3 separate regions of the Homo sapiens genome follow, and all the other regions are linked to region 3. Evidence: fine-mapped expression QTL. A gene starts in region 3. Each other region holds a variant in brackets. All regions are shown on one strand. Distances are from middle to middle. Region 1 overlaps STK32C (serine/threonine kinase 32C). Region 2 overlaps LOC124902526 (a long non-coding RNA gene). Region 3 holds the start of STK32C (serine/threonine kinase 32C).

Region 1 (7,330 bases), 52 kb before region 3:
GGTCAATGCCCTACGCCTCCTGGGGCCTCAGACCCTCCACTACTCACCACAGGCAGGTCAATGCCCTATGCCTCCTGGGGCCTCCGACCCACGCCTCCCCCTCACATCCCCATCTCATCCTGCTGGGCCCCTCAGGGCTGGACTTTGGCACTGTCTGATCAGAAGTCTCTGGCCAAGAACCCGCTAGGGACATGGCGGCCTGCTAACCAGCCAAGGTCAGAGGTCACCACATGAACCGCTGGCCAGGCCCATTCCAGACCCAGGAAGGAGGGAGACAACCTCCTGGAGTGAACTCTTCAGTGTGGGGGAAACACTCAACAAGCCCACAGTGTGGCACCAGGTGCCAGGGAGGGGGCTAAAGCAGGAAAGGGGGAGGGGGCTGCCATCCTACAAGGCCGTCGGGAGACATTTCTGAAGGGGACATTTGGCAAAGAAGTGTGGGCATGGGTCGTGATTACGGGGACCAAGACTGGTCTGTCACGCTCCTCGGCGTGATTTACGCCGTGCAGTGATGCTGTCAGCGCATCCTTCACCCGTGCTGTCCACCTCTCAAATTAAGACGCAGGTAAAAGGAGAAGCAGACGCAGCTCCCCACAATCCCATCTCACAGCTAGGGGGCTCCTTCCCAGGAACCAGGACACATCTGCCTGAAGGAAGCACCTCTGTACTTGTGTGCACCCAACGGCGGGCGTGGGATGGACGGAGCGGCTCGGAGCTCCGGGCCCACCAGCACCTGCCCTCATTGTGCAGCTTGGCCAAAGGGCCACAGACACAGTCTTCCCAGTACAGCAAATGCATTCGAATCCAGGGTCTTTAAAATATTTATTCTTCAAGGAAGGCTTTTATTTTTTTGGTGTTGGCAACTGAGAGCAGGTCCTATGAGAGTCGCCATCTGAATCCCGCTAAGTGACCCGAGCGTGGGGCCGCCTCCTCCCAGGTCACTCTGGATTCTGCATCCACACAGGTGGGTTGAGAAACCAACACCAGCCCCCACACCTCCCACGGTGTCCGGCAGCCTCTCCAGGTCCTCCCCAAGGGCTGCTAGCTGGGGTCTCAGTCCCTGAACCAGGCCCCACAATCAGAGATAGGTTCTCTTGAGACTTGTCAGCGCTAAGCCCAGCACCCAGACAGCAGGGACGTTCGTCCTCCCTAACGCAGCATTTCCCTGTTCTCAGAGAGTTTTGCCACCATCTCCAGGCTTACCAGGAGCAACAAAATAACCAAAGAAAAGGCAAGGAGCTTTTCCGGAAAGCAGCACTCCAACGCAATTGTTTCTGGTTTCTGGGTTGCCAGCACAGGTGGCCCAACCACATGTCTGCCTGGAAGGTCCTGCCGGGCCTGGGAACTGGAACCGGGCAAAAGGAAGCTGGAGGGAGCAGAGGGAGCTGGAGGGAGCCGAGGGAGCTGGAGAGAGTCAAGGGAGCCTGGGGAGCCGAGGTAGCTGGAGGGAGTCGAGGGAGCTGGAGGGAGCTGGAGGGAGTCGAGGGAGCTGGAGGGAGTCGAGGGAACTGGAGGGAGCTGGAGGGAGTCGAGGGAGCTGGAGGGAGTCGAGGGAGCTGAGGGAGCTGAGGGAGCCGGAGGGAGCTGGAGGGAGTCGAGGGAGCTGGAGGGAGTCGAGGGAGCTGGAGGGAGCTGGAGGGAGCCGAGGGAGCTGGAGGGAGCCGAGGGAGCTGGAGGGAGCTGAGGGAGCTGGAGGGAGTCGAGAGAGCTAGAGGGAGTCCAGGGAGCCTGCGGAGCTGAGGGAGCTGAGGGAGCCGCCCCTCCACAGCACATCTAAGGCCAAACACCGGCTCGAGGCGAGAGATGGCCAAGACGTCACCTCTGGCATGGCTACCACCAAGTCCAAGGCAAAAGCGTTAGGTAACATTTCAACACTTTTCCCCAAGAATAAAAAATGATCTGCCCTCCCGTGTGCCTGGCTAGAACCTTCCTCCCGCCCTGCAGGGACCCGCCTCTGCGTCTAGCACTCGGCTGAGTGGCTGGCCCACATGGGCATAGAAAGAGCACTTCCAATAACAAACCATGTTAGGAAAGCCCAAAGCCTCAGTGGAGTTTCAGGTTAAAACCTAGTCTTTTCAGGCAGGGCGCGGTGGCTCATGCCTGTAATCCCAGCACTTAGGGAGGCCGAGGCAGGTGGATCACGAGGTCAGGAGATCGAGACCATCCTTGCCAACATGGTGAAACCCCGTCTCTACTAAAAATACAAAAAATTAGCCAGGCATAGTGGCGGGCGCCTGTAATCCCAGCTACTCAGGAGGCTGAGGCAGGAGAACGGCATGAACCCGGGAGGCAGAGGTTGCAGTGAGCCAAGATCGCGCCTCTGCACTCCAGCCTGGGCAAAAAGGGCGAAACTCCATCAGGGGAGAAAAAAACAACAAAAAAAAATAGCCTTTTCATAAGCCAGGGCTTGTATCAAAACTGGTAAGAAAATACTCCCAATGAGGACAGCAAAAGAAGAGAGGAGAGTAAAATAAGCCTGCCGCAGGGCGCCGGGAATCAGCACTATGTCACCCCGGCACAATGCGTGCACCCTCCACGAAGGCTGCCCCCAGACCTGGGAGCCCAGGAGAGTAAAATAAGCCTGCCGCAGGGTGCCGGGAGTCAGCACTATGTCACCCCGGCACAATGCGTGCACCCTCCACGAAGGCTGCCCCCAGACCTGGGAGCCCAGGAGAGTAAAATAAGCCTGCCGCAGGGCGCCGGGAATCAGCACTATGTCACCCCGGCACAATGCGTGCACCCTCCACGAAGGCTGCCCCCAGACCTGGGAGCCCAGGAGAGTAAAATAAGCCTGCCGCAGGGCGCCGGGAATCAGCACTATGTCACCCCGGCACAATGCGTGCACCCCACGCGAAGGCTGTCTCAAGAGCTGGAGAATCAGCTCTGCTCCTGACACCCCAGGTCCCCTCTTGATGTCTTTGGAGGCCCGGGAAGTGGGTGCTGGACAGTTTCAGAGCTGCCACGTGGTGGATGAGCTGCCCACAGCTGCAGGCGTGTCCCAGGCCTGGGACGCTTCCCTTCACAGCCCACCCCACCCACTCATCC[G/A]GAAGAGGCCCCCACGTCCAAGTGTCCTCAGGCAGAACCAGCCCGTTCACCAATGGGAGGATTGCACAGCAGAAGTGGGCACTACTGTGAGAGCTGTCACAAAGATCAAATGTCACACGTGGTTGAAACACACGCAGAAGTTGATTAAATGCCGTCTCGTCTCCTATGACCTGGGAAGTGCTTATGATGAGGAAAATCATCCCCCAGGACTCCGAGACGCAGGCCCCGCAGAGCTTGTGCAGCCTCTGGGGATGTCTGGCCCACACGGGGCTCCTGACTTAGGAAATACCGGGCCAGGTGGAAGAGTTGGAACCGGCCCGATAGCTCCTCCTGGCAATGGGTGCCCCCCACTCCCACTCCTCAGGTGCCCTGGCCCGCTAGGTCAACAGGAACCACAGGAGTCACCAGACATCACCTCACAGACCCCTCACCCTCTTGCCATGGCCTGCGGGAACAAAGACCCACCACGCTGACGGGCAGGGTTGACGCAGATGGGGACAAGACAGGTGGGGGCTAGAGACAGGCATGAGAGCCGCTGGGCAGGGGTGAGGAGGCTCCCGAGTTACAGCGGAGAACATAGAGCAGAAGCGTCCAGCCACAGCAGCACCCAGGAGAGGAGCAGGGGGCCCTGCAGGAAGCAGGTCCCTCAACCCTTGCTGAGCCCCACGCGGTTTCCTGCACCACTGAGGATGTGTTGAAACCCCAGGGCAGGAAGGTCAGAGATCAGGAGAGGGGATGAGGGTGTGGGTGCCGGCCTCTGACCCTGGACTCCTCAGTCCAGAGGGGGCCTGGAGCCTCGAGGTCATGCCTGGGTGCCAGCACCATGGCCCAGCATTACGTGCGCTGCCCACGCATCTCCGAGGGCCCAGCTGGCCACCTTCTCCTTCTCCACCGTCCCCTCACCCAGGGGCAGACCCCCATGACCAGCAGCCTGCAGCCTCTGCACACCCTGGAGCCCTGGTGTCCAGCTTGGACTCGCCCGGGTGGCTTGGCGGCTTCCCGGCATCCCTGGGCAGCTCCGGGACAGGGCTCTGTCCTCAGCTGGCACCACCACCCTTCCAGCCTCGGGGAGCCAACTGGGGTCTTACTCTGGGAACATACCCTGTGCCCCAGGCTCCATCTTGGCAGCGATGCCCTCACCCTGTCTTTTCTGTGAAACAGACACAGCCAGGATGTGGCAGCAGCCCACAGCTGAGTCCTGTGGGGCCCCTGGGCTCCGAAACAATTGTGGCTTCTCCTGCCCAGGTACACACCCAGAGCCCGGGGTCCTGGTGCCTACACCTCCAGCAGGACCCTGTTGGCGGCAGCATTCTTGCCATCTCCCTCCCCCACCTTAATTGCAGTGAAAGCTTCCACCCATAAAACAGGCTCAGTGGCAGCTTCCCAGGCCAGCACTGTGGATCCTGGTCCTGTCTGGTCTGAAATTGTCTGGAATCATGTTCCGGTGTTTAATATCGACATCCTCAGACAACACGGGGATCTGCCATAAATGAGTGATTAGGGCAACCGCCTGATCAATACAGTATCTCCGGGTGGCAGAGGCTCAGGCCTGAGACCGCAGTGCCTGAGACCGCAGGAGTCGCCCACGGCAGCAGGGACCTGGGCTCCTCCAGCTCCCCAAACCGCTGGAGAGGTGGGCAGCAGCACCTCCCCCCAGGCTGCCTAGAGGGGTCCTACTGTCCAAGGCCCGGCCCCACCCACCCCTGCCTCTCACTGCGCAGGGCCCAGCACCCCAGGACCACCCACAGGGGCAGACCTGGAGGACTCCAAGGCCGCCTGGCCCTGCAGCAGCTGAGAAGCCTGCTCCTGGGGCTGCCCGCCCAGAGGCACAGATGCTTGGGGACCCCGGAGCTGCAATGGAGACAGCCCTGACTCGGGGTGGGGCTTGGGGTTCCTCCTGAGTCCTGAACCCTGAGGCAGGTGTGCCTAGCCAGTGGGGGGGACGCTGGCCACAGCAGCAGCAGCACTGGATGAGGGGGAGCGAGCCCAGTGGGATCCCAGGGCTGGGGATCAAAGCAGAACAGCCCAGGAAGGAGCCCTGGCCAGGAGCAGATGGATGGGCAGGGCCCTGTGTCCTGGGGTGTGGCTGCACCAAGGGCCACACTCAGGGCTCGCTGTGGGACCAGCTGGGGGCTGCCCATGAGGCTGGGTCCTCAGGGGGGTGAGGCCTGTGGATACAGGACATGCCCTGAAAGACCCCAGAGGTCAGTGTGTTCAGAGGCCAGCACGAGATGGGTAGGTGTGTGGGTGGGTCAAGGCTGGAAAAAGCCCTGTCCACGTGTCTGTCCTTCCATCCTCCCACCTGCAGCCCCTGGGGTCCTGCACAGCCCTCCCACACCCGTGCCACTGTCTCCCACAGAGGGAGACGGAGGGGCTCCTAGGAAGAGGTGGCTCCTGGCAGCCACAGGCCCCTAGGCCAGCGGGCTGTGGTCATTCAGGGTGCCTGAGAGCTCCCAGGGAGAGGGGCAGAGCTGGAGGAGGAGTGACTCAGAGCAGGGAGGGAGCATCACACCCCCCAGCCAAAGAGATGGGCGGGGCGGAGCTGCGAAGGAGTGGGTGGCAGGATGCTGCCTGTTCTGGCACAGAAAGCCACATCACCCCTGTCCACCCCATCTGGTGCCCACCCCCTGCTGCCGGCCCCCTGCCCTGCCCTCTCTCTGCCTCTGTCCCCAGGGGCGCCCACTGTGAGCCAATGATGGCAATCCCAGGCCTGACACCCCCACAATCCTCCCCCCAACCCCCACCCTCCACCAGGCCCCTCTGCAGACACTAGGAGGGGGCCCCAGAACCAAACACCCCCAGGGGACCCATCAGCTGCCCTGGGCTGGGGGCTCCTCTACACCTGCAGGTGGGACTCAGGGCTCTCGAGCCTCCACTGTGCAGCCTGCCTGAGGCCCAAAGGAGGCCGCGGCCCAGCAGGCCCCTGAAAGCCACAGGCCCTGACATGGGCTGCAAAGACCAGCAAGGCTCTCCTCAGTGCACGGACTCCACCTGCCCCGGGAAATCGGTCAGGACGAAGGGCTCCATGTCCCAAGTGCCCTCACTGTCCCTGTCCTTGTCACCCCATCACACACATGTGCTGATGAATGCCGGCTGAGTGGCCCCCCAGGACCTCCCCGGGAGCAACAGCAAGTGTCCCAGCCCCAGGACATCGGCCCTGACCTGACCTAGAGAGGGGGGCAGCTGCCTCTCCTGGATCTGCAGTGGACAGGCAAGAGGGCCCAGCTGCCAAGGCTGGGCAGGTGTCTGCCGGGCACAGCGGGAGCTTTGCTCCAAGGTGGCATGAGCTCCAGTCTGATTTTCACACACATTAGCACTTGGTAGAGTGGAAAGCACCTTTCCCCAAACCATCAACAGCACTCGAAGAGTTCCTCACAGCCTCCTTTTCCTAAAATGGAAAGCGTGGCCCTGGCCGCCCCCCATCACCCCCCACGGGGCCCTTCCAGGGCTCTTTGCAAAGGACAGGTGGAGCCCGTGTCATCCTCAGGACGGGTCCAGTGCGCTCTCCTGGGTGCCTAGGCCAGCGCGTTCTCCTGGAAGGACAGGTCCAATGCGCTCTCCCGGGTGGCTGGGCCAGCGCGCAGGCCTTCCTCTGGAATTCCTCCCAGCCCACCGAACAGGAACAGGGCGGCGGGCTCACAGCCGGTCCTCTGGGCACCTAACGCCCTGGGTACCGACTGCTGTCCACGCTGACGCTGTGAGGGCCAGCAGGCCCTGGAAAGGAGCTGCTTCTGGACTCACACGTATTCCCACTGCCCCTCCTGAGCGGGCCCAGGCCACACGGTCGCACACCTCAGGGCCGGATGAGGATCCCCAAACACCACAGTGCCGAGGAGGGGCTGCGAGGGCCTCCAGGGCATGGCCTCTTCCACAACATGAAGGTCTCCGCCCGTGGGCAGACGGGGGTTGAGGATGACCAGTTCATCAGGAAGGAATTTTATCCTAGAAATGCTAATGGCAAATGGTAGGAAAATATCATCTCCAACTAAAAGCATTCACTCGACAACACATGAACAGGGCTATAGCTTGGGAGGCTGCTGCACCGGGTACTGGGGGCACAGCTGGGGGCATGGACAGGGCTGTGGCTTGGGAGGCTGCTGCACCGGGTACTGGGGCACAGCTGGGGGCATGAACAGGGCCATAGCCAACCATTCTCACCCTCATGTGCACCTTCCCCATCCCAGCCTCCAAGCCCTGGGGCAGGTGGGAAAATGGGCCCTGCAGGACCCTCCTTCCATCCAGGGTAAGATGTAACTTCCTGACATGGTTTGGCTCTGTGTTCCCA
Region 2 (7,330 bases), 84 kb after region 3:
GGCTCATGCGGGGGGCGGGGGGATTCGTGCGCGGGCGGGGGGCTCATGCGGGGGCGGGGGGCTCATGCGGGGGCGGGGGGCTCATGCGGGGGCGGGGGCTCATGCGGGGGCGGGGGGCTCATGCGGGGGCGGGGGCTCATGCGGGGGGCGGGGGGATCATGCGGGGGCGGGGGCTCATGCGGGGGGCGGGGGCTCATGCGGGGGCGGGGGCTCATGCGGGGGGCGGGGGGATTCGTGCGCGGGCGGGGGGCTCATGCGGGGGCGGGGGGCTCATGCGGGGGCGGGGGGCTCATGCGGGGGCGGGGGGTTCATGCGGGGGCGGGGGGCTCATGCGGGGGCGGGGGGCTCATGCGGGGGCGGGGGGTTCATGCGGGGGCGGGGGGCTCATGCGGGGGCGGGGGGGCTCATGCGGGGGCGGGGGGCTCATGCGGGGGGCGGGGGGCTCATGCGGGGGGCGGGGGGCTCATGCGGGGGCGGGGGCTCATGCGGGGGGCGGGGGGGCTCATGCGGGGGCGGGGGGCTCATACGGGGGCGGGGGGCTCATGCGGGGGCGGGGGGCTCATGCGGGGGTGAGGGGGCGCACCACGGAGCCGCCTGCAGGGGCTCGGGGGCTCTCATTGAGGGAAGCAGCTGCCCGGCCCTGGAGGTCCCACGCCAGGCCATGGCAACAGGGTTAGCATTACAGGGCAACGTCTCAGGCTGAGAAAGCAATCGGCCAAAACTCCGGCCCTCCTGGCTCCCTCAAGGAAGCCTGGCTCATCTCCTGTGTGGATCCCTGAGTCCTGCACCCCAAGTGAGCCCAAAACAGGAGGGCCAAGCCCACAAACGTCCGTGGGCAGCCGGCCAGGGAAGGTGCCGTTCAGGCCCCATGCGCTCGGTCCGGGTCTCAGGACACACAGCGCAGAACCCGGCGTGGGCCTTGGGGCGTGAGGCCAGAAGCGGAGTTCACGTGACCTCAAGGACACCCTGCCGGACTTCCCCAAGTGCTGGCCAGGCCTTGGGGGCAGCTGGGCTCAGGTCCCCCTTGTCACTGTTGGAAGCTGGCCCTGCACCCACTACACTCACCAGTTCCTCCGTGGGGTCAGGAGGCTGGGGAGACCCCTCAGGGCTGGAGCCCAGTGTGGGGGCTGCTCTCCATCCAGGGCTGGAGCTGTCAGGGTGCTGCCTGGCTGCTCCCTCCACCCGGGAAGGAATGAGGCCCTCCCAGCAAGCTCTGCTCCCCTCAGGCCCCAGGCTGCCCAGAGGCCCCCCAGTCAGCCTTTCTCAGCCAGAAGGTGTTCATTTCTGTGCACCTGGGAGAACGCAGGCGACAGCCTCCAGCGCCCTCCAGCCCTAGCCCAGGGGATCCTGCTCCTTCCTGCACCTCCTCCCTCAGGCATCCTGTGGGGGACAGCACGAACACCTGGCCTCTCCTGGCCACTGGAGGAGGGCAAGGACAGGAGCCCCGCAGCCCAGCCCAGCTGCACGCTGCTGCACCTGCTGACACACCAGTGCCTCCCTAGATCCAGCACAGGGCTCTGCTCTCGGCCCTCCAACCACACCTCGGAGAGCCCCACTCTGTCTGTGGGTCTGCCTGGGGTCTACACCTCAGCTCAGGACAACCCTGAGGTCACCTGGACTCCGTGTCTGTCCCCACGCCCCAGGGCTCATGCCAGGTTCTGCATGTGGAGGGGTCGGGACAAATGCATAGCCACACCCACCAGGAGGAGGGTTTGAGGGGAAAGAGTTTGCAGGGAGGCCCCTGGGCCCCAGGCCACCACACTGTCTCCCCTAGGAGTCTCTGCCTGGAGGGAGCAGCACAGGACCTTTCCTACCTACCCCCTCCCCACCGCCCGCCCCGCTCTGGACACAGGCTAGCTCCTGCTCGTTAGGTGAGTGGGAGGTCAGGGTCGGGGAGCAGAAGGCATGAAGGTGCCTTTGCAAGCTGGGCGTGAAATGTGAATATACCCTGAGAGGGTTTTCTCCAAGTATCCCAGATGTGGATAACAACTGGTTTAATGATGAAATATCATGGTGTTTTTAGCAAACAGAAGCCCCGCCTTCTAGTATGAGGTTTGGCAAAACTGTCAGATTAAAAAATAAACCCACAAGCAGGGCATGGTGGCTCAAGCCTATAATCCTAGCACTTTGGAAGGCTGAAGTGGGAGGATCACTCGAGTCCAGGAGTTCTACACCAGCCTAGGCAACATGGCGAGATTCCGTCTCTACTAAAAGTAAAAAATCTGCCAGATGTGGTGGCTAACACCACCAGATACTCAGGAGGCTGAGGTGGGAGGATTGCTTAATCCCAGGAGTTTTTGAGGCTGCAGTGAGCCATGATTGTGCCACTGCACTCCAGCCTGCACGACAGAGCAAGACCCTGATTCATTTAAAATAAATAAGTCCCTACAGCAAAGACTTCTCATGAGGTTGGTGAGGTACCTTACAAAATGACACCCCAGGAGGTGGCCTGGGGCTCTGGGCAGTGTTTAACTGTGGGAGTTTCTCATGGTGTCCATGGCTGTGTTGACAGAAAGGTGCTAGTCTGGCTGTGGGGCCCACAAGCATGGGCTCTGTGAAGGGAGACCCCAGCCTGGCAAGGCCAAGGGGCCCAGCGTCCACCCAGAGTGCCTCTGGAAGATGCATCAGGACACAGCTCGGCTGCCTCCCTCACCTCGTCCTCCTCCGCACTCAAACTCCAGAAAGCAATCAGAGAAGACTGCCGTCTGGGAGGTGCCTCTCCTGGACTGGAAGCGCCCGAGTGCCTGCTGTGTTCCAGGTGCCCGGACCCTAGAGTGGTGGGCTCGTCTCCAGCAACCTCCACAGCAGGCACCCTGGAAGACCCTAGGGCAGGAGTGCAGCTTCACCTCCCTGTGGACCAGCAGCTCCAGGGGCCTCCAGCTTTTAAGTGCTTCCCAGTCTGTGTGAGCTGCCCAGGCCAGGCAGGGGCCTCCCGGTCTGTGTTTGCTTCCCAGGCCAGGGGCTTTTATGGGAACGTAAGCTTTAGGACTCTTATTCTGTGACAGGCCACTTCACACTGCACCTCTTCGTGGAGAACCTCACCAGGAACGTGCCAGCGTCCTTGGTCGTGGGTTCTTCTGAGAGAGATCCATGTCTGGCCAAGCCGTTTGGATCAACATGGGGGAGGCTTTTCCTCTCTCCAACATTAGGACCTCAAGGGTTAACTTCAAGCCAGGAAATGAGGACTTTAGATCCTGGGAATGGCCTTCGGAGGAGAGAGCTTACAACCTGCTAAGCGAGGCTGCTATGTTGCCTGTGATCCCAGGGGCCCTGGGCTGGGTTCGGGTGTTGTGGATTGGTTCTCTGGTCATGGAGAACAGCACGGGTCTTGCTGAGAAACAGCCAGCTCCTTCAGAAACAGAAGGGTCACACATCCACTGTTTGGAAACCAAAGCAGTTGTCTGGGGATGGGATGCCCCACCCTAGAAATATCTTTGCCCAGATGCTGCAGCCACAGGGCCTCTCGAACCTGAGTCTGGAAGGGATTCACAGCCACTGCTGAGAGCCAGCCTGGCCCTGGGGGCTGCCTCGGCTCCCCTGCCAAGGA[T/C]GTGGGAGAGCACAGGTTATGGGGTCAGAGGAGGCTTCAAGAGCAGCTACCTGGGAGCCACTCACCTGCCTGGCTTCTTCCGCATCACGGGCCTCAGCCAGATACCAGCAGGGGCAGATTGCACACAGAGCATGTGGGCACAGGGTTTGCATCTCCTACCTGGCCCTGAGCATAGCACAAGGCCTCAGGTGTACCCGAGGATCCCACTGAGGGCCCAGCTATACAAGTATCATGAGAGTGGTGGTGGTGGTGATCATTTTGCTGGTGATAATGGTGATGGTGATATGGTGATGGCGGTGGTGGTGATGATGCTGATAGTAGTGGTGATGGTAGGTGTGATGGTGGTGATGGTGGTGGTGATAGTCATGGTGGTGATGGTGACAATGGTGGGGATGGTGGTGGTGGTGTGATGGTGATGATAGTGGAGATGGTGGTGGCAGTGACAGTGATAATGGTGATGGTGGTGTGATGGTGGTTGCAATGGTGATGGTGATAGTGATGGTGGTGGGGTGATACTGATGATAGTCATGGTGGTCATGATGGTGATGGTGATGGTGGTAGTAGTGATGGGGGAGGTGGGATGGTGATCATGATGATGATGGCAGTAGTGGTGATGGTGATGGTGGAGGTGGTGGTGGTGATAATGGTGATGGTGATGATGGTGATGTGATAATGGTGATGGTGATGGTAGTGGTGATGGGGGTGGTGGTAATGGTGATGATGGTGATGGTGATGATGGTGATGGTGGTGATGATGGTGATGGTGATGGTGATGATGGTGACGGTGGTGACAATGGTGATGGTGATGGTGGTGGTAGTGATGGGGGAGGTGGGATGGTAATGCTCATGGTGATGATGGCTGTAGCGGTGATGGTGGAGACTGTGGTGGTGATGGTGATGCTGATAATGACAAAAGTGTTGATGATGGTGATGGCAGCTAACTCATGGAAGCTTTACTGGGGCTTGTGCTGTACTAAGTATCTCATTTAATATTAACTCATTTAATATTCAGTACGAGGCTACACGGTAGGTACCATCATATTTCCCACTTTACAGATGAGGACACTGAGGCACAAGGGAGGTGGCAGTCTCCCCAAGGTCACATGGCAGGACTCTAGCAGTTTGGCCTCAGAGTTTATGTGCCTGCCCAGCTCTCTGCACCACCTCGAGTGGAGTCTTGGCAGGTTCTGTTCCCAGCCGGTCCTTTGAGATACTGCCTCAGGGGATGTGACCCTATATCATCCTGATAACCCAAGGGGCAGGGAGACAGCTCCAGAACAGACAAGACAAAGTTGGCCTTGTAGACCCACACTGCCCTCCAAGGGCTTCCAGACTGGAGCAGAACAAAACAAACACTGCCCAAAGGATCTGTGGCCTGCTAGAAGGTCGAGGGTTCCTGGCTCAGCATCTGCAAAGATTGCCTTGAGCCCCTGCCTCAGACGACACGACAAGGGACAAGGAGTGTGTTCCCCAGGCCGGCCTCCCTGCCAGACACCTTGGAGGAGGCCTGGCGTGCTCCTGCTCCCTAGTCTGTCCAGGCTTCTTGAGTGATGAATGGTTGCTTACTGAAATCAGAGCAGGCCCTCTGTATTAAAGGCTTTATCCTGTCTCCTGCCTTCCACAGCTGCTGTGGGCAAAAGGCTTGCCATGAGGCGACCTGGGTCCCAGCCTCAAGGCCCATCCCTGCCTTTGGCCTCTGGGCACCAGCTCTGGAGAAATCTGTGGTCTCTGACTCATGGCTGTGTCCTGCGAGGCCTCCATCTTGACCAGACACCTTCGATGCATCTCAGGAGCACCTCACTATGCTGCATGAGACTTGCACACAGCCAGGCCCTGGTGAGCTCCAGTAAGATCAAGCAAGCCCAGGTGTGTTGGGGGTTGGGGGGATACCAGGTGATTCTGGAGCAGGCTGGACACAGGCCAGGCTGTGGCTGCACCTCAGTCATGGGGAGGCCGCTGTAAGCCTCATCTCGTGGAAGAGACCAACAAAGGCTGAGAACCTGCTCACCACTGCCCTTCCCAAGTCTCAGTGATGATGTAGTGCGGTAGGACAGTGCTGGGCAGGTCCAGGTCCAGCAGTCAGGAGGGCCCTCTAAGCTCGGACCTGGGGGAGCGACCCTGAAAGACGAGGGGCGGGCATGGAGCTGGTGATGCAAGTGAGCCAGGCTGCCAGGGAGGACAAATCCTGGAGTTCCTCCAAGGACCGCAGGGGAGGCAGACCCTGAGGGGAGGTGGCCTGCGGGGTTCCTGCCTTCCTCCCCTGCTGTCTCAGGGGACATAGAGGCCAGCCCCTGCTTCCTCCTCCAGCCACCTGTCCCTCCCTCAACTGTACCCCTTCAGGCCACCCATCCTGCCAACTGCTGGTCACCCACCCCCAGCCCCGGTGGAAGTTCCGGACACTCTCCTGTCCCCTTGGCTTACCCCATCTGACTGGCTGGGCCGTCCCGAGCTGGGCATGTCCTAGGCCTTGCTGCGGCTGTGCCTACAGCCAGAGGACCAAAGGCTTTAGGACCTTTTGTTTGGATCAAGTCTCTTGAAGACAAAGTCTAAAGACCTCGGAGGTGTCTCTTCCCACTCTTGGCCTTTTCACCCCAGCCAGGGGCGTACTCCCGAGGCTCCTCTCCAGCCCAGCCAGGCAGCTCAGGGTCCTCTCACTGTGGGCAGCACCAGCCCCAGTACCCAGGGTGCTTCCCAGAACTGGGCAGACCTCACTGACTGGCATGAGCAGGGTGGCCTCTGGGGAGATGCTCAGAGCAGCAAGCCTAGGACAGCCTCCCAACCCCCGAATACAGGGTCAGACAGGAGGGGATACCTGGGCTGATGAGGTCCCCAAGGACACCTGCACTTTAATCGGGGACTCTGGAAACTCCCATGGCCTCTTCTTCAACAAGCAGGTTGGAGCGGGGCGGGAAGCAAGTGGGAGCAGGTGCGGGGGCAGGGCTGCTGGGGGAGGCCCTGAACAGCCACCGTTTAAGTTGCAAAAATGGTCTCCCTGTCTGCAGATGGTCTTTTTTATACCTTACCTAGTGGAGAGCAGGTTTTAAAAACGGCTTCCAAGTTCACTTAACAATACACAGTAAATAGCACGGGCCAGAGGGGAAGAGGCAGAGGGAAGGCGGGCAGGGCAGAGGGAAGGTGGGCAGGGCAGAGGGAAGGCGGGCAGGGCAGAGGGGCAGGAGGTACCATGGGCCAGCCGTGCTTCTCACTGCCCTCTTCCCCTCTCCAGCCAGAGCTGCCAGCTGCTGGGTGCATCTGTCTGGCCCTCTGTGCCCCGGAACCCTCTTCCCCTGTCCTGCCCGCCGCCACCCAGCCTTGGTTCCTCTCAAAGCCCAGCAAGTCCACAGGTGGGTCCCTCAGCACACCCCAAACTGTTCCTCCTGCTGGCGTGGGAAGTCACCAGGAGCCCCAGGCGCACGCAGACACCTTGCAGAGGATCCTGCCCACCCCCACCCCCACCTCGGAAGCCCTTGCTTTTGCCCACCTGGTGGGGCCCTGGTGAATGCTGGTGCTCCCCTGGACACTCTTTCTGGATCCCTCCACCCACATACAGCCCCCTGTGCATTAGCCCCACCCCATGCTGGCCCCACCAGCCTGAATGCTGATTCACCCTGGCAGTCCCCAATGCTCAGAAAGGGCAGTGCCCAGCAGGCCTCTCCAGCAGGCAGGAAGAAGAGCCAAGCAAGTGGGCAGCCTCAGGATGGCCGCTCAGCCCAACCTGGAGCAGGGTGGCGAGGGGGTCCCTGCTGCCTGGCATTTTTCCTCCAAAGTCAGCCCCACCCCTGGA
Region 3 (7,330 bases):
ACTGCTGGTAAAACTCAAGAGGGGCTTAAAAAAAAAGCCTGAGCCCCTGAGCCCCACCCCCAACCCACCAAACCCCCCCAGTTCACCCACAGTTCACGGGTGTGGGGCTTGAGCATCTGCATTTTTTAAGAGTGCCCAGTGAATGACTCGGGTCCACAGCCTGGGGCTGAGAACTGTTGTAAATTCAGCCAACAAATGATGCCTCAGGTCTGGAAGAGGCTGGCAACATATCGCTGAATCAACAAGCACCTTACGGCAAATTGGCATGCAGAGCAGGATCCCACTTCTGCTAACAAAGAGAGAGTGTTTCTCCACGGCTGTACCTGGGACTGTATTTCCAGAAAAAGGCTGGGAGGTGACACCGTGATCCCAATGCTGAAGTTACAGATACCGTGGCATAAAGTATAGAATGTTTTTAAATGCATACATTTTAATGCTTTCATAATTAGGAAAAAACAAAGGTGTTTCTAATTTTAAGAGATGACTTGAGGAGTCTGGTGGCCCCTGGTCCTGCCTCACTGCCTGCCCGGCCCGGCGCCCAGGGCGGGCCGTCCACAGCCTGCAAGGGCCTGTCCACTCCAGCCTTCCCCAGATGAAGGCAAAGCCCCTCAGGGAGGAGCTACTTCCTGCTGGCGGGCTAATGCCACGTCAGGCTGGAGACTCAATGCTGTGACCCCGAGACGGGCGAGCGCCCCCCAGGTTGCAGAGCTGCTTAGCGGGAAGGTACCGGAGCCTCCTCTCAGGTTCACTTGGTATCACCAGGACACCAAGACAGAGAGGAATGAAGGGGCTCGCCCAACGCCATGCAGCTCTGGTGCAGAGCAGCAGCAGAAAGACCCCCTAACCAAGTTCAACCCCAAAAATGAATTTTTCACCGAAGTCAGAGAAGGGATAGAATGGGAGCATGTGAGGGGCTGAGGGGAAGGAAAACTGGAGACCCTCAGTTCTGGCATGACAAAGACGTGCAGAGAATTCTGTACATGCACCAAATATCTGCCAAATTAGGAAAATGGTTCTGGAGTCCACAAGGATTAAAAGGAACAGAGGACATTTAGTCTTATATGTCGCAACTATGCCTATCAGTTGAAATTTACCTGGCACTTTGTTAAACAGCACTCTTAATTTCTTTTTTCCTTTTCTCTGCATACTAAATTTGATATATTAATTAGGTGTTTTAATCTAAAAAATTCATCGGAAGGTCTAGCATTGCCATAGCAACCGTGCAGATTCAGTAAACTCGAGACACCAACACAGCACCAGGGCCTCCTTAAGCCAGTGCTGCCACGGGGCCACGAAAGTACCAGGCAAATGACTGCACCAACCTGAAAGGGGTGGGACTCAGGGGCAACAGTCCCTTCCTAAAAGACTCTCCTTTCTCCTTCCAAACTGAATCCCTTCCACCAACACGAGTCCCCGGCATCCACACTCAGAGGTGCAGAACATTCTTCTGCAAACCCTGTGCTATGACTCCCAAGTTGTCTGTGCCCTGCCAGTGACAGGAAGAAGCGGAGGGAAGCGGTCACCGCCCAGAGATGTCCTCTGCTATTCGGGCCAGGGCCTAGTCTTGCCCTCCTGATTTCACCACACAAAGCCCAGCTGAGTCCCGGCGGGTGCTCAGTTTGGGGATGTGGCTGCATACCAAGCCATACGGAGCCAGCAGCATCCGTGGGACACCGTCAGCCGAATCTCTGCCGTCCTACTACAGGCAAATACGGTGATGCTGGGGATGTGAAAGAATTCCCAAGTCAGACCGTGAGCCCCACAGACAGACTCTGTGCTTGCTCTTTTTGCCTTTCTAGTGATCCTTGAATTCTGTGACATAACACACTGTGAACACACAGGGAAGTCTACCCTACAAAGCTGAAGGCAGCCCAGTGCCACACCACTGTCTCCACTCCCACCCCCGGAGAGCACGGTGCCGAGACCCAGAAGAGCAGCCAGCTCTTGGCTGACACCAGCAAGTGCTAAACCAGATGCGTTTCTCAGACGTTCTCTCAACCCGCAGCCAGAAACGAGAGGCAAATCTGCCTCCTGATCAGCTCCTAGTTCACTCTGGGCTTTCTTTACTTTGAATATTTATGTTAAAAACAAAAACATTTCTCAAACATTCACCATCGTGAGTTCTGCTGTCCCGAAGTTCAGGACACAGTGACGGGCCACCCTGGAGCGTGTGGGGCCTGGTGTGGCTGGGCCTTCAGCCCTCCTTCTAGGCAGCACACCATGAATCCCCGGTGCCGTCTCCCGGAGGAACGGCGGTGCACGGCCCCACACTCACCAACGCCGGCCTGAGGTCGTATTACTGTAATTTCCCATAATGCTTAAATTATTTATCGCAAGTAAATAGCCTGGCTCCTGAGCGCTGGGCTCTAAAATTTTGAAGGATCCATCATACCTCTGCACGCTATCTATAAATGAAAAATGCACATTTCAAGTATTTTAAGAAAATGTCAAAAAACATGAAATGTGTCATCAATGTACGATTTTAAATGATTTGCATGTTACCTGTAGAAAAGAGCTGTATGTCTGCATGTGACTGTATTACAGTGCCCACAGGCAGACGCGGCACCACATCTCCCTGCAGGTGATAATTCGGGGGTCCCCGGGGCCCCCTGGCACCCCGGGAGGTGTCCCTGCAGGCCTGTCCCATGTCACCTCACCTGCCTTCTCTGCTTTCTATGGCGCCCACGGCTGCACGGTCACTCAGGAGACACCAGTCCCCGGGGTTGGCGGCTTTATCTACAGGACTCAGCAGCGCACTCGTTCCTGGCAGGGCAGGTCTTTGCACAACGGCCTGGCCCTGCCTCCAGCGCACATGGGTGAGCAGAGGATGGACACCGCGCGGTCACCAAGGAGACTGAGCCTCTGAGCGGCCGGGCCCCGCCACCTGTGGGGCAGGAGCCTCACTCGCACTCGGGCGGCACAGGTGAGCGCCTCTCTAACTGCAAAGTACAAACGAGCCCGCACGTGGGCCCGAGCGGATCACGGAAAGCGGAAAGCAGGGCTGCCACGGGCGGTGGGCGGAGGCGCGCGCAAGCCCGGAGACGCCACAGCCGCGGGGGACCCTCGCCCCGAGGGCCCGGGCCCAGCCTGCTCCTCCTGCGGCGCCGCCACTAGAAACGGAGGACGCGGGCGGGCGCCCAGAACTCGCGTGGGGCCGCAGCCACCCGGCGCGAGCTTCTCCGGAAGCCGGGGCGCCCCGGGAAGCCGTCCCGGACACCGGGGGAACCCCTGCGGGAAAAAGCCGCCCAGCCGCGCCCGCCCCTGCAATAGCGCGCGGCCCCCACGTCGTCCCCGTGCCCGCACTCACCGTCCTCCTTGTCGTCAAACACCGGCCTCCGCGCGGTGGCCGCCGACATGGACGAGCCCATCCTCTTCTTCCACTTGCTCCACTGAAACAGGGGGCGCGGCTGCGAGCGGACATCGCCCGAGTCCCGGGCCCGGGGCTGGCCAGCAGCGGGCGGCGGCAGGGCCGAGGGCGCGTCGGAGCCGGCGGGGCGCGCGCGGCCGGGGGGCGGCGAGCCCGGGGACGCCGCGGCGCTGCTGCCCCTGCGCTCGGCGCCACTCCTCATCGCCGGGTCTGGGTGCGCGCGGCAGCCGGAACTCGGGGCATGGCCGGCCGGCAGGGCCGGGAGCGGCAGTGGTAGCGGGAGCGCTCGGGGCCGGCAGCGCCCGCCGTGCGCTCTTCTGGGCGGTGGAACCCGCCCCGTAGATTGCGAGCGCTGGGGGCGGGGCAGGGGCGGGGCTTCTGGAAGGGGCGGGGGCGGGGCGGAGCTCCTGGAAGGGGTCGAGGCGGAGCTGAGCGCCGGGGCGTGGCAGGTGCGGAGCTTCGGGAAGGGTAGGGGCGGGGCCGAGCCGGGGGCGGGGCAGGGGCGGGGCTAGTGCCTGGAGTGTCGCTAGGGAGTGGGTGGCCGCCACCAGTCTAGGGATGGGGGCTGTGGTTCGCCGGGACACGGGGACCACGGCTCAGACTAGACGGCGGGTACGAGAGCGAGGGAGGCAGGGAGCGTCCCCACGGGTATCCTGGGGCCCCGGAGGTCGGCGTCCCTGGCACGGGGACTGCTGTGCCCGGCACGGCGGCGGGACCTTCTCGCGGTCTCCGGGGGCCTCCCTCCCCTGCCTTCTTCGTGAAAACAGCCGGCGCGCGGGCTTCCGCCGCCCAGTGCGGGGAGCCCTAAACTCCAGCCTTCTGCTTTGCGCAGGGTGAGGCCGGGCTGCAGGCCCGGGATGCGGGCGGCGGGAATCTGCCGGGCAGAGCCCGGCTCACGGTCAGGAGGCGGCAGGCTGAGTCCAAGCGCTGCGCCAGAGGGTGGGGTGGGGCAGGGCGGGCCTGGCTGCGCGCGCGCACACGCGGGCGCCTGGGGTGGGCGCTAAGCCCTGAGCACGTGCGCCCGCGCTCTCGGGCACCCCCGTGCCATCCTCGCGACCCCCGTCCGGCCTGAGACCGCGTGCCCGAGTCGCCCAGGGTCCCCTTGTCCAGATGCGACAGGGGCCTCGGCACTCGGCGTATTTCGGAGGCCTGGGGCGCGGCTTGACCTCCGGGCACCTCTGCCCCTGCGCAGGGCCAGGCGCGACCTTGCGCGGAAAGTGCTGGGCGCCTTGGAGTGCCCTGGAGAAGGCGCGGCTCTGCATGGAGCCTCGCCGCCTGCCCCTGGCGCTTGTCACTGAAGAATCAGTTTTTGCTACCGGGCTGTTTGACTTTAGGAAGCCTTTACCTCCTTAAGTTCTGCCCTGTAACCAGGACACAAAGACGGGGTCTCTTCCTCCTCGGTGAAATCCTAGATGGGATTTCCTGCTGCCCGCCCGGACGATGAGCGGATCCCCAACATGGCTCCAAGGCCAGTGTCTCCCGCTCCCGTCCCTCCCACCGCACACAACTGTCTACCCTGTCATTCAGCCACTGTGAGCCCTGCCTCCCCACGGCCTTTGACATTCAGTGTGGCCGCCCGCCCTAACCGCCTGATGCATGAAATGTGAGCACGGGAAGTCTGTGTGGCTTCTGGGCCAACAGGAGCCCCCATCCCTTGGGGACTATAAGGAATGGAACCATGCCCATCTACCTAGGACATGCACCCGCCTGGACATGCACCCGCCTGGACATGCACCCGCCTAGGACATGCACCCACCTGGACATGCACCCGCTTAGGACACATGGCATGCATTTCACTACTGAGATTTAGAGGGTATTTTTATGGCAGCATAACCTAGGTTACCTGACCAACCAGCCACCGCAGCTCTCCCTGCCTGGCTAGCACAAACGCATCGGTCTCTAACTTCCAGTGCACAGAGCCGAGTTTTCAGCCCTTGCAGCTGCGAAGCTCTGTTCCCTGCTCTCCCTCAAAGTTGCCATTCTCCAGCAGGCACGCAGAAGGCAGTGGGTTCAGCACCTGCCTCAGAGGAAGCCCTCGGTGCCCATCCCAGCAGGAGTGGTGAAGGAGCGTTTGGAAGGGGAGGTACCAAGGCAGGGCAGTGCCTGGAACCCTGCGTACCCGGTGCACACATCAGACTCCCCAGGGCTCCTCCCAAAACACGCAGCCTCTGAACTTACATCATCGCCTCTCCTCCTCTCCCTCTGACCCCTAAAAGTGGCAGAAAAGGAATAAAAGATATAACGTCCCCACCACCACCTAAGAGGGAACAGGAGAAGGGAAGACATGTTAATAGACTTCAGACAGCAGGTAGAAAGCTGACTCTGAAGATTGGAGAGGCTGAGGACCTGCAGGTAACCAGGACCCCAAAAGGCGGGAGAATGTGAATACAGCCAGAGCCCAGGACGCCTCCCCGGCCCGGGCAGTTGGGGATGGACAGTCCTCTGGTCTGAGGGTCCAAAGGGGCTCTTGACCTAGGGATACCAAGTCCTGCAGAAGACAAGAGTGCAGGGGGGCAGAGGGGTTCATGGGGACATCTGCACACTTAACTAGGAGACCCTCCAACCTCACCCTTGCTGTGAGCCTCAAACACCAAGCCAGGCACCTGCCTCTCAGTCAGGAAACAGGAAGGATCTGTAGGGAAACAGCAGCTCCCAAAAGAATGCCGGGTCCTAAGATTTGGCCAGTGCAGATCAGCCCTGGAGGGGCCTGTGGGCTCAGGGCACAACTCTTGTACTGTCCAGGTGCAACTCTTGTACTGTCCAGCCACGGCTCAGGGTCCAGGCAAACACAAGACTGAGCGTTAAGAGGTGCACAGTGTAGGCATGAGACAGGAGGGGTCAGGAACTGCTGTCCCCAAGAGGATGCCAACCCCTGGTGCCTCATGGGAGGTAGCTCTGAAGTTCTAGGGGGATGCTGGGAGGGACTGAGGCTGGGACAGAGTCAGCTGTGGATGGGAAGGGGCAGTGAGGCCAGTAGAGAATTCCTGAGTTCCCCTGTGTGCCCATGCTGCCCGGGAACGTCAACTTCATTAGGGCAGCGATGGTGTCTGCCCCTTCCAATGACAGGAGACCAAGTGACAATGTGACAGATAAATGCATTCAGTGCACTGACGTCTAGCACGCAGGAGCACACAGGAAGGCACATGGCTGGGCAGCACGTGCATGATCGTGGGACCACTTTAGCTTGGGTAGTCCAGCATGAGTCTCTGAGCAGGTGACCTTGATGCTGAGGCCGGAGCATGAACGAGTAGCCCAAGGGAGGCCAGGTGTCCGGGTTCCAACAGCAGGAGCTGGCCCTAAGGTAGAAACCGGCTTGTGCGGGAGGACAGGAGGGTCCATGCTGCAGGACAGCAAGTGAGTGGCCGTGGCATGTGCTGAAGGGCTGGGGGTGGTTTGGGGGACAAGGTGCAGTCCCTGACACCAGGCTTCATGTGCATTTGTTCATAATTCGTCCATAAAGCCACGCCTCCTGAGGGACATGCCTTGGACATGGGTCCTCCGTTGCCACATAATTGGCACACAGCTCAGTCACACCGAGATGTGTGCTTCATCTTCTGTCATCATTATGAAATTAACACATGCTCTGCCCACGCCTTTGTTAAGAGTCCTTTTATTAAATCTCCTCAGATCACACGATTCGTGTGTGCTGTTTCCTGCTGGAAAACACATCTCAGAACTGACCCCCAAAACAGGAAATGGGCTCCCATGGGACTCCGATGCTGGTGTCCACCTATGTGGAGAATCCACGGACAGCCTCCCTCCTGGGAAATGGAAGACAGATGGCCGTGGCGCCCTCAGATTCAGCCCTGGCGGGGCCTGGGACTGAGGATTCTTGGAAGGCCAGGGCCTTGGAGCCCACGTGTGGGGACACTTGGTTGCTATGGTGACAGTATTGATTTTAAAGGTCATGTGGCCACCTGGTGACTCAGGAAGGAGCACAGCGACGGAGAACATGCAGGACGG

The links.
Region 1: its variant is fine-mapped to the expression of STK32C in whole blood (TOPMed, PIP above 0.99).
Region 2: its variant is fine-mapped to the expression of STK32C in fibroblasts (GENCORD, PIP 0.92).

What each region holds. Positions count from the first base shown.
Region 1 is chr10:132,251,950-132,259,279 of GRCh38, forward strand. All of the region lies in intron 1 of STK32C (serine/threonine kinase 32C), which reads right to left. Among named protein-coding and RNA genes, the nearest start is that of STK32C, 52 kb to the right of the region's middle. RefSeq lists enhancers at 2,304-2,805, 2,806-3,305. The variant G/A (reference allele first, on the strand shown) is at 3,046.
Region 2 is chr10:132,388,303-132,395,632 of GRCh38, forward strand. It overlaps LOC124902526 (a long non-coding RNA gene), which reads right to left. Exons shown (of 2, transcript XR_007062342.1): 1 at 6,359-7,330; 2 at 4,513-6,028. Among named protein-coding and RNA genes, the nearest start is that of PWWP2B, 5.2 kb to the right of the region's middle. RefSeq lists enhancers at 1,226-1,905, 6,816-7,330. The variant T/C (reference allele first, on the strand shown) is at 3,548.
Region 3 is chr10:132,304,265-132,311,594 of GRCh38, forward strand. STK32C (serine/threonine kinase 32C) reads right to left here and starts at 3,686. Exons shown (of 12, transcript NM_173575.4): 1 at 3,308-3,686. The coding sequence starts at 3,569. RefSeq lists a silencer at 3,510-4,159 and enhancers at 4,412-4,956, 4,957-5,499, 7,141-7,330.